4 separate regions of the Homo sapiens genome follow, and regions 2, 3 and 4 are each linked to region 1. The links come from fine-mapping of genetic effects on gene expression. A gene starts in region 1. Each other region holds a variant in brackets. All regions are shown on one strand. Distances are from middle to middle.

Region 1 (2,683 bases):
ACCACCGAATTCGATGACACGATGGGTTTCTTCTCCCCACAACTGACCCCTCAACCCGTCTCCAAATGGCGATTCTAAAGCCCAATTTCATCTCCCCGAGAACAAAACTTGTTAACTTTTAATCCCCGCATCCGTGCGGCCAGCATGTACTCCGCGCCGGGCACTGGGTTGCCCGTGACATATGCTCATTAAACATTTACAACATGGGGACGCTCGCAACGCTACCAAAACGGGGAGCGCCGGGCGGGGTGGGAAGAGGGGCTTCCAGAGGAAGGTTCAAACCAGAAACCGTCTCTTACACCAGCATGCGGTGGGGATCGTTTCACTGAAACCAGCGCCCACCCTCTGCCGACGAGGTAGGCCCGAACCACACCGTTGCCCACTAACCGCTGCGGCCCAGGCGGTGGCCGTAGCCTCCCGGAGGCCGGGCCCTCGGGCAGGGGCAGGTCCCTGAGTGTACGGTGGGGGGGAGGGCGCGGCGACCAGGATCAACCAGGAGGCAATTTTAAAAAGTCCCGAGTCACCATGACCGGTAGCAGACCCCGGGGCCCTGGAGGTGCTGGGGGAGGGGACTCCCATGTCCCCGGAAGAGGCCCCCGGACCCAGGAGGGCAAGGAGGGAGACCCACCTGGGGGGGACTGTCCGTTCACGGTGGTCAGGACCGGCGGCAATGCGTTCTTAGTCCACGGGTTCACCTTGGGCGGGGGGGCTTCCACGAAGTCCCGGCGCCCCGCGCCCGCGGCTCCGGCAGCTCCTCCGCCAGCGCCTGGCTCGCCGCCGCCCTCCTCCCCGTCGCTGATGGCCGGGCCTTCGGCGCCGGGCAGCTGCAGCGGCCGCGGGCTCTCGCGCTCCTGCTGCCCGGTGCCCTCCTTGTGCGGCTTGGCGCAGGGCGGCCGGGGTCTCCGAGCGCTGCCGTCCGGCTCCCCCCCGCGGACGTCGTTTGGCCCGGGCTCGCCCTTGCCCTCGGGCGCCGGCGGCGGCTTCTTCCTCACCAGCCCCCCGTGCTCTTCGGCCTGCAAGAGCGTGGCGCCCCCAGGCAGCAGCGGCTCCACCTGAGTGGCCATCTGCGCGCCCGCCCCCCCGGAGAAGCCGGGCGCGCCCGAGGCTGCCTCCCCCGCCTCGAACTTGGCTAGCAGAGCGCCCGCGACGCCTTCCTCCGGGGCGCTGGGCCCCAGTCCCTGCAGAGAAGGGTCGGGGTTCACGCGAGGTGCGGCCCCCTCCCAGTTAGATGCAGCCGCCGTAAATCCGAGGCCCACTAGCGGGGCGGGGGGGGAGGAAGGCCCCCCACTCTGCAGTCCAGGCCTCCTAGGCGTGCGTCCCCCCCCGCCCGTTCCTCGCAAGACGCCCCCACCCCGAGCCCGGCAGGCTTCTAGTCCCGTCCCTCCCTCCCCCCCGCCCCCGGGGCGGCCCGGGCTTCCCGGCTCGGGGGCTGCAGCAATATGGACGGACGGGGGAGAGGCGCGGCGAGCCAAGCAGACCACGCGATCCGCGGCAGGCGGCGGGCGGGCGCGCGCCTCACGACGCGGCGGGCGAGGGGAGGGGACGGCGCAGCGGGGGCGCGCCGCTGGCCGGGCCCTGGGCGACGGGCGGGCAGGAGGCGGCGGGACGGCGCGCGCACGGCTACGCGGTCCTGCCCCTCGCCCCGCCCCTCGTCTCCGATTCCTCAGAGCACCTCCCGGGCTGGGGGTAGGGACGCTCAGACCGGACGGGGGCGAGCACGTGCCTGATGCAATTCGGGAGTTGTCGGTGGGGGCGCTGACGGGGATAGGAGAGAAGGCTGGGCGAGGAGGGGAGGTATCTTAAAGGGCCAGCGCGTGAGAGCGGCCTCAGGTGGAGCACATGGGACCCGGCCACGCGGCCTGCCGGGCCTGCTCGTGCTCTTTAGGCTGGGTGTCAGATTCAGGGGAAGGAGCCATTAGTGTCATTCCTGACTTCTAGGAGGCCGAAGGGAGGACCCTCATCCGCCCCGAGGACGCGCCAACGCCGCCCCCTCCCCTGTGCCCGGCGGGCCTGGCCCCTTCGGTCCCCGCCCGGGTGACCTTGGTTGGGTGAGCCGTCCGCACCTCAGTGGGTTGTGCTCCGCGCCTCGCCGCCGCTGGGCCTGGCCTCGACACTACCCGGAGATGGGTTCAACTCCGGGCCTGGAAAGCGAGTCTTTAGCCCTTGCGGGCAGCCGGCGCCTAGGAAGTGGGAACGGAATTACTAAAGCCCTCACCCAGGCCAGGCCCTTCTCCCCGCCGCGAAACCTTGTATTTATGGGCAGGAAATGTCTTTTCTTTCAAGTGGATGTCGTTTTTTTTCTAAAGAATTGCTTTGGGCGGAGTTGAACCGTCCCTGGATTGGGACTTCTGAGATCTGAGATTTTATCCTGGCCCTGCCCCCTTACCATCTCTGCAGCAGTGACTTCCAGCTTCGTGGGCCTCAGTTTCTCTATTGTAAAATGAAGGAGCAGTGTATGACAGCAGTTTCAAACTTCAGTGTACATTCGATTCAATACTTACTGACCTCGTACTGTGGGGGCCTTGCAGGGTTCTAGGAAACGGGTTTGGTATAAACTAGGCTAACAAAGTCCCTATCCTCATGGAATTTATTCTAAGGTGGGGAAAGAGACAATAAACAAGTAATAAATTATTGTCTAGTATCTATGAAGACAATAGTTAAACTGTGGTAATCAGTTAGACTA
Region 2 (2,683 bases), 110 kb before region 1:
CCACCATATTCCCACTTGGAATTAAACCCACTGATAGCCACATGATAGAGCCAAATACTGTGTGAAACAAACCAGTATATGAGCCCCAGTGTTTTGTGAAAAACTGAAACATGGGCAACAAGCACCAATTCAACTTCTGGCTGCTGCTGCTGAACAGAACAGTCACTAGGACTGCAAAAATGACTAAGAATTCAATTCCCTGCTTCAGTGTAGCCCAAAGTGAGAGAGAAATACACATTCCCTAGGACTGACCTATGAAATGAAAGCCATTTGACATTGTCACAGAGAACCACTCCTGATGTCATAAGCAGCTCTGCAAAGTGCAGTGTGTCAATCCCTTCCTCTTCATGCTTCTGAAACTGTAGTCCTGAGTTAGCAAGGAGATCTATGGAATCCTGGGAGTACATGTCCTCTCTAAAAAACAAGGTGTTTATTTATTAACTGGTGAATAATGAAACAGAAGTAGTGGCCACACTATTACCACCACCTTATAATTATAGTACAAGTATTTTTGAAATGCTTTTCCTAACTTAATAGATCAATTCACTCTTTCCAACATTCAAACAAGCATGCAAAGTAGATCATATTTCTGTGACAGATAGAAAAATGAGATTTTCCTCCATAAACTAAATTTCCTAATTATAATAGGTATACATTTGCTCATTATTTAAAAAAAAAAAAAAACCAATAACACCAGGCACAGTGGTGCACGCCTGTAATCCCAGCACTCTGGAAGGCCAAGGCAGGAAGATCACTTCAGACCAGGAGTTCCAGACCAGCCTGGGTGACAGAGTGAGACTCCGTCTCAAAAAAAACAAAACAAACAAAAAAAAAACAACACACACACACACACACAAACAAAGATTAGCCAGGCATGGTGGTATGCACCTGTAGTTCTAACTACTCCGGAGGCTGAGGTGAGAGGATTGTTTGAGGCCAAGAACTGGAGGGGACTCACACCACTGCACTCTAGTCTAGGTGACAGAGCAAGATCCTGTCTCAAAAATAAAATAAGTAGGCCGGGCATGGTGGCTCACACCTGTAATACCAGCACTTTGGGAGGCTGAGACAGGCAGATCACTTGAGGCCCAGAGTTCAAACCAGCCTGGCCAACATGGTGAAACCCTGTCTCTACCAAAAATACAAAAATTAGGCCAGGCGTGGTGGCTCATGCCTGTAATCCCAGAAATTTGGGAGGCCAAGGTGGGCGGATCACGAGGTCAAGAGATCAAGACCATCCTGGCCAACGTGGTGAAACCCTCTCTCTACTAAAAACACAAAAATTAGCTGGGCGTGGTGGCGCACGCCTGTAATCCCAGCTACTTGGGAGCCTGAGGCAGCAGACTCACTTGAATCTGGGAGGCAGAGGTTGTAGTGAGCCAAGCTCGCGCCACTGCGCTCCAGCCTGATGACAGAGCGAGACTCCCTCTCAAAAAAAAAAAAAAAA[AC/C]ACAAAAAAACAAAAATTAGCCGGACGTGGTGGCATGCCCCTGAATCCCAGCTACTCAGGAAGTTGAGGCATGAGAATCACTTGAACCCAGGAGGCAAAGGCTGCAGTGAGCCAAGATGGCGCCACTGTACTCCAGCCTAGGAGACAGAACAAGACTCTGTCTCAAAAAAATAAATAAACTTAAAAAAAAAAAAAAAAAAACCAACAAGGCCGGGTGGGGTGGCTCACGCCTGTAATCCCAGCACTTTGGGAGGCTGAGGTGGGTGGATCACCTGAGGTCGGGAGTTCGAGACCAGCCTGACCAACATGGAGAAACCCCATCTCTACTAAAAATACAAAATTAGCAGGGCGTGGTGGCACATGCCTGTAATCCCAGCTACTCAGGATGCTGAGGTTGGAGAATCGCTTGAACCTGGGAGGCAGAGGTTGCAGTGAGCTGAGAAAGCGCCATCACACTCCAGCCTGGGCAACAGGAGCGAAACTCTATCTCAAAAAAAAAAAATAAACCAACAAAAAAATATTGAGGCACAGATGGTGGGCAGCCAGCTAAGATGACCTGACGCGCCTTCCAGCTGATTCAGGCTGCTTGCCTCAGACTCAGACACCGCCACCATGGCCAGTGAGTCTCAGGGGATCCAGCAGCTGCTGCAGGCTGAGAAATGTGCCACTGAGAAGGTATCCAAGGCCCATGAGCAAAAGACCCAGAGGCTGAAGTAGATCAAAGGAGCAGCTAAGGATGAAACTTAACAGTACCACCTGCAGAGGGAGGAAGTGGTCCAGGCCAAGGAAGCCACAGCCCTGGAATCCCAGTAGCTGCAGCACTCAAGTGGCGTAGGAAGCCCAGAAGAGGACCAGCCTCCAGACCTACTTCTGGCAGAACAAGGCTTGGATAGCCTCTTGGCCACCGTCTGTGACACTGAGCAGAAATCCATGAAAACTACAGCATAAATGGAAAGGAGTGGGAGAAAGAAGTGCCTGTTCCATGAACTGGCGTTTTAGATGCCCTCAGGGAACATAAAGCTTTGGCAAAGCTCAAGTTATATTCTTATGAAGTAAATAGGTCGGGTGCGGTGGCTCACAACTGTATGTAATCCCAGCACTTTGGGAGACCAGAGTGGGTGGATCACGAGGGTCAGGAGTTAAAGACAAGCCTGGCCAAGATGGTGAAACCCCGTCTTTACTAAAAATACAAAAGTTAGCCAGGCATGGTGGGCACCTGTAATCCCAGCTACTTA
Region 3 (2,683 bases), 120 kb before region 1:
CCCAAATAGTTGGAAATAAGAGCTCGGAGTTGCAAAGAAAATGAGCTCTCAAAAGACTTCTCAGCAAGGCAAATTTACTTCTGAGAAGGGTGCTGCCTGCAACAGTCATGATCGCAAGAGCACACTGAACAAAGGAGAAAAGTTTTTATCCCTAATGCAGCTTCTGTTTCTGTGTCCTTTCCCCATTGGCTGTAGTCGGACCACACAATGTAAGCTAACCCGATTGGCTAAAACTTGAAATTTTTCCAAATAGGGTAGATGGGGAAGAAGGGGTAGGAGTGGTAAAACTTTTCCAAACAGAGTAAACTGAAACATTTAAATGCGTAACTTGTTGTTTTTTTTTTGTTTTGTTTTTTGTTTTTTTTGAGACTGTCTCTGTTGCCCAGGCTGGAGTGCAGTGGCGCGATCTTGGGTCACTGCAACCTCCACCTCCTGGGTTCACGCCATTCTCCTGCCTCAGCCTCCCAAGTAGCTGGGACTACAGGTGCCCACCACCATGCCCGGCTAATTTTTTGTGTTTTTAGTAGAGACAGGGTTTCACTGTGTTAGCCAGGATGGTCTCAATCTCCTGACCTCATGATCCACCCGCCTTGGCCTCCCAAAGTGCTGGGATTACAAGCGTGAGCCACTGTGCCCAGCCTAAATGCGTAACTTGTAAAGAAAAGAAAGGAGGGGAGGGAGGGATTGTCCGTTAAGGCATGTTTGGGCATGTTTAGGCATGGCAAAGATGGAAAGGCTTGTTTAGAGAACAAGAATGTATCTTCTAGCAATGTGAAATGACATTAGTCGCTAAAAGAAACAAAGAAGTTTGAAGAGGAACTGACTGTTTCTGGCACCAGCTATTTGGGAGGCTGAGGCAGGAGAATTGCTTGAACCTGGGAGGCGGAGGTTGCAGTGAGCCAAGATCATGCCACTGCACTCCAGCCTGGGCGACAGAACAAGACTCTGTCTCAAAAAAAAAAAAAAAAAAAAAAAAAAAAAGAATTACAAGCCAGCACGGTGGCTCATGACTGTAAGCACTTTGGGAGGCCAAGGCAGGCAAATCACTTGAGGTCAGGAGTTTGAGACCAGCTTGCCCAACATGGTGAAACCCCATCTCTACTAAAAAAATATAAACATTAGCTGGACATGGTAGCATGCACCTGTAGTCCCAGCTACTCAGGAGGGTGAGGGTGCAGTGAGCTAAGATCATGCCACTGCACTCCAGC[C/T]TGGATGACCGAGTGAGACCCTGTCTAAACCTCGAAAGAATTACACCTTAAGTGATTCTCTTGGTTACCCTACAGTGCCATCACTTTTTGAGGATGAGCATTCACATAGACCTATATGCACTCATACACACAAAGTTCTTGCCAGTTCCAAGACTTGTGCTCTTTCTTGCTAAAGCACTACTCTAAGCTCTTAACTCTCACATGCAATGATGACCAAACCCCACACTCAACACTGAGTTCCTCAACCCTTTGAGCATTTCTCCTGACATGTAAGTAAGTCCTTAATTGTAGAAAATATTAAATGTCCTGCTTTAATTCAAATTTGGAAGGGTATCTGCATAGCGCTCACAGTCACCAGCATGCCAGGGCACCCTGGTTGAGAACCACTGACTGCTGTTTCACCAGAAATTACAGTGATAAATCTCTTGTTTTGTCAACTTCCCAGTCACAATTCCATATCTGCCCCTGTACCAGACTTCTTAAAACCCCACATATTTTGTGTCAACAGAAATGGCTGGAAACAAAGTCTTGAGCCAACTCTAGGATATCTGAAGTTCAGGTTGTTTAAAAGAATCCCACTAATTAACAAGCTAATCCACCATATATAGTGGAGTGACCCCAGGAAATATTAGACTGGTTTAATTCTATAATATTAAGACCCAACAATCTTGAGTATGAAGAGACAATTCCATTTACACAGGTGCTCGTGAAAAGCTTCCTACCAAGTGATATGTATTTTTTTTATTCCCGAACCCACCCCCCAAGTGATATTTTGTATGTAAGCCAACTTGGGGACAATGGAGGCAAGATGCTCTTATTTCACTGATGGCAAATGACCATCTTCCAGAGCCAGCAATCCATAGCTATGAAAGACCAAACCTTAATGCCAGTGGTTAAAAAGAAATCTTTATTTTACAAAATTAAAAACATAAATAGTATTTACAAGCATCTTAAATACCAGCTTATAATACTTGACATTTTCTAATCATTTCAAATTGAGTTTCCCATAAGCTTTTAAAATGCAAGACCATTCATTCACTTGAGTGAGTTACCAGTTTTTACTTCCACCAATCCAAAGTGGGTTTTGGTTTTTGAAATTGTCCATACTGTAGTCATTCAAAAAAATACAATATGCTTTTGAAATGACTAGCTTTAAAGAAAAAAGTCCTGAGCTTCCTACCCCAGTTGTGGGATATTACTCCAAAACAACTCAAGAACCCAAATTATCTTACTGCCTGATTAAATGTAACCACTCTAGCTTTTTAAAGACACATTCCTGTTACTCACATTAATCCATCTCCCTCACGTTTCAGGTTTGCTGGAAGGAAAAGTAGAGAAATAATGGAGTAGAGAAGTGGGAGAATCCAGATGACCATCTGAAATCACATTACTGAAAATACAACAGACATGACCCAAAAATCTGATCTTACTAGTTTCCTTCAGGATCAAATCCAGGATATTTTATTGTACAAAAA
Region 4 (2,683 bases), 150 kb before region 1:
GTGATTGCCTAGGGCTCAAGCAGGGGGTATATCTTACTACAAAGAGGCTTGGTGGAAATATTAGATTAGTACAAAAGTAATTGTGGTGGTGGTAGGTACTTTGTACCAAAGTATTTAAAAATTGGTGTATTTTATTATATTACCCCTCAGTAAAGATGATTTTAAAGTAAGCAAAGGATAAAAACCTTAAAATGTAAATATAGAAACCTTAAAAATGTAAATGTAACAGTAATGGAAGAATTCATGAGTCCAGACCGATATAATAAATAAATGGGGAGAAGCACAAGCTCTTCCTTGTGGTAGGATGCCAACTAGATGCCAAGCTCTTCCTTGTGGTAGAATGTAGAGTGAAATCCTGGAATTAGAAGTTCACCTTGTGGGCCAGGCACAGTAGCTCACGCCTGTAATCCCAGTACTTTGGGAGGCGAGCTGATCACTTGAGCCCAGGTGTTTGATACCAGCCTGGCCAACATGACAAAACCCCATCTCTACAAAAAAAAAAAAAAAAAAAAATACAAAAATTACCCAGGCATGGTGTCGCACACCTGTAGTCCCAGCTATTCAAGAGGCTGAGGCAGGAGGATTGCTTGAGCCTGGAAGGTCAAGTAAGGCTGCCGTGAACGGAGATTCTGCCACCGCACTCCAGCCCAGACAACAGAGCAAGAACCTGTCTCAAAAAAGAGAAAAAAAGAAAAAACAAACTCACCATTTGGCAGTCATCATAGTAACAATTTTTAATCAAGAAACATCAGTGAATACAAAAACTAGTAGATGCAAATACTTAGTAGTTAAACAGGGGAAATACCCTTTTAGGGAGTAACTTGCAAGACACACCCTTAATCAGGTGATCAAAGTAAACCAAATGGGACGAATAAAAATTAGCTGCTACCTCATAGATTGCCCTGCATGAACACAGCAGCACTAATGTGCATTCCAGCTAAAGATGCATACCCTAAATCTAGTCATGAAAAACATCTGGCAGACCTAAATTGAGGGAAATTGGACAAAATAACTGTCTTGTAATCTTCAGAAGTTTCAGATTATGAAAGTCAAAGGAAAACCATGCAACTAACTGTTCCAGGCTGAAGGGAACCAGAAAGGCATGGCAACCAAATGTACCATGTGATCCTGGATTGATTCCTTTTGCTATAAAAGACATCTGGGTAGGCCGGGCGTGGTGGCTCATGCCTGTAATCCCAGCACTTTGGGAGGCCGAGGCAGGCAGATCACCTGAGGTCAGGAGTTTGAGACCAGCCTGACCAACATGGTGAAACCCC[G/A]TCTCTACTGAAAATACAAAAATTAGCTGGGCGTGGTTGTGCGTGCCTGTAATCCCAGCTACTCAGGAGGCTGAAGCAGGAGAATCGCTTGAACCTGGGAGGCAGAAGTTGCGGTGAGCTGAGATCTCGCCATTGCACTCCCGCCGGGGCAAGAAGAGCGAAACCATCTCCAAAAAAAAAAAAAAAAAAAAAAAAAAGGACATCTGGGTAAAATTGGCAGAACTTAAATAGAGAGTATGGAGTAGGTGGCAGTAGTGAATCGTGTTAATTTCCTGATTTCCATGGTTGTACTATGGTGACGTCGGAGCATGTCCTGTTCATAAGACACACACTAAAATATTTGGGTGTTATTGGGCATCATGTTTATGATTTAATGAAATTTCAAAAGGGTTTGGTTAATATTGTGATAATATAATTCTAAAAGTTCATTGAGAAGAAAGGGAATGGGTAAAAATGCTATTAAAGAGGAATGAGATATTGGAGTTTACCACCTAGAGTGCTTTTAACCAAGAATGTATACTTTAGTCAGTCCTTTATTGTGATTCTTGTAGGCAAAAAAAGTATTGAATTGGAGAAAAAACGGCTCTCTCAACCTAAGGCAAAGCCCAAAAAGAAGAAAAAGCCCACCTTGAGAACTCCTGTAAAGCTGGAATCGATTGATGGAAATGAAGAAGAAAGCATGAAGGAGAACTCAGGACCTGTTGAGAATGGTGTGTCAGACCAAGAAGGGGAGGAGCAAGCACGGGAGCCGGAATTACCCTGTGGCCTTGCTCCAGCGGGTATGTGGCAGAATCCTGTGTATCACTAGGATTTCATGGTCGTGTCTGGGAAACTAAGCTAGGTCCTTACTCAGTTTGAAACTTCGCTGTTCCCATTTTTCCAACTCTTGGAAACAGCATTAGTTTTTTTTGTTAAGCTTTATTCAAGTCTCTAAAATAAACATCTTTGAAGTTTTAAAGGGGTTCTAGTGGATGTTTGTGGTGGAAATAGTAAAGTTCTACAGAGAAAACTTCTTATTCAACTTGGGCAAGGTAAAACCGTGGGACGAAGCGAAGCTGGGTCAGTTGTGTACATAGGAACTTACATGGGAAAAGTTTTAACAGTATGACATCAGTAGCCACATTTGGTGAAAGAAACTACTGTCCCTTACAAATGTCTGACCTAGAAGCTACCACCACTGTGGGAACTTGCAAGCTCTCACCCCCTTACGTGGAGTTTGTACGCGGCTTTCTGTCTTCTCACAGAAAAAAAATGTGTGAATGGTTATTAGGTTTTTCTAGTGAGTTAAGCTGTAGTGATGGCTCTCAGATGTCTCACAAAACAGTGTTCTATCACTAACAAAAAAACTGTTAGGTAAAAATTTTAGCACTCTTTTTATTTTGTACATTTACTCGGGACCTGTTGAG

Which allele goes with the higher level. Alleles are on the strand shown, and positions count from the first base shown. SD is a standard deviation of normalised expression in the study named. Not every link is listed here.
In carriers of allele C in region 2, the expression in skeletal muscle of the gene that starts at base 1,445 in region 1 tends to be lower than with AC alone (moderate effect, 0.44 SD a copy in FUSION).

The links. PIP is the estimated chance that this variant, and not a neighbour inherited with it, causes the effect. A credible set is the group of variants that fine-mapping cannot tell apart.
Region 2: its variant is the best candidate, but not a certain one, in a credible set for the expression of LARP1 in skeletal muscle (FUSION, PIP 0.53).
Region 3: its variant is the best candidate, but not a certain one, in a credible set for the expression of LARP1 in T cells (TOPMed, PIP 0.69).
Region 4: its variant is the best candidate, but not a certain one, in a credible set for the expression of LARP1 in whole blood (TOPMed, PIP 0.87).

Annotation. Positions count from the first base shown.
Region 1 is chr5:154,754,139-154,756,821 of GRCh38, reverse strand. It overlaps LARP1 (La ribonucleoprotein 1, translational regulator), which reads right to left and starts at 1,445. Exons shown (of 19, transcript NM_033551.3): 1 at 629-1,445. The coding sequence starts at 1,064. LOC112267936 (a long non-coding RNA gene) reads left to right here and starts at 1,802. Exons shown (of 2, transcript XR_002956231.2): 1 at 1,802-2,683. RefSeq lists silencers at 368-477, 758-837, 878-1,287, 1,328-1,667, 1,918-2,067.
Region 2 is chr5:154,868,392-154,871,074 of GRCh38, reverse strand. CNOT8 (CCR4-NOT transcription complex subunit 8) reads right to left here. Exons shown (of 7, transcript NM_001301073.2): 4 at 253-414. Among named protein-coding and RNA genes, the nearest start is that of CNOT8, 11 kb to the right of the region's middle. The variant AC/C (reference allele first, on the strand shown) is at 1,448.
Region 3 is chr5:154,876,202-154,878,884 of GRCh38, reverse strand. It overlaps CNOT8 (CCR4-NOT transcription complex subunit 8), which reads right to left. Exons shown (of 7, transcript NM_001301073.2): 7 at 2,093-2,683. It overlaps LOC124901119 (a long non-coding RNA gene), which reads right to left and starts at 126. Exons shown (of 2, transcript XR_007059011.1): 1 at 1-126. The variant C/T (reference allele first, on the strand shown) is at 1,209.
Region 4 is chr5:154,906,964-154,909,646 of GRCh38, reverse strand. It overlaps GEMIN5 (gem nuclear organelle associated protein 5), which reads left to right. Exons shown (of 28, transcript NM_015465.5): 16 at 1,829-2,056. Among named protein-coding and RNA genes, the nearest start is that of GEMIN5, 30 kb to the left of the region's middle. RefSeq lists an enhancer at 811-1,310. The variant G/A (reference allele first, on the strand shown) is at 1,278.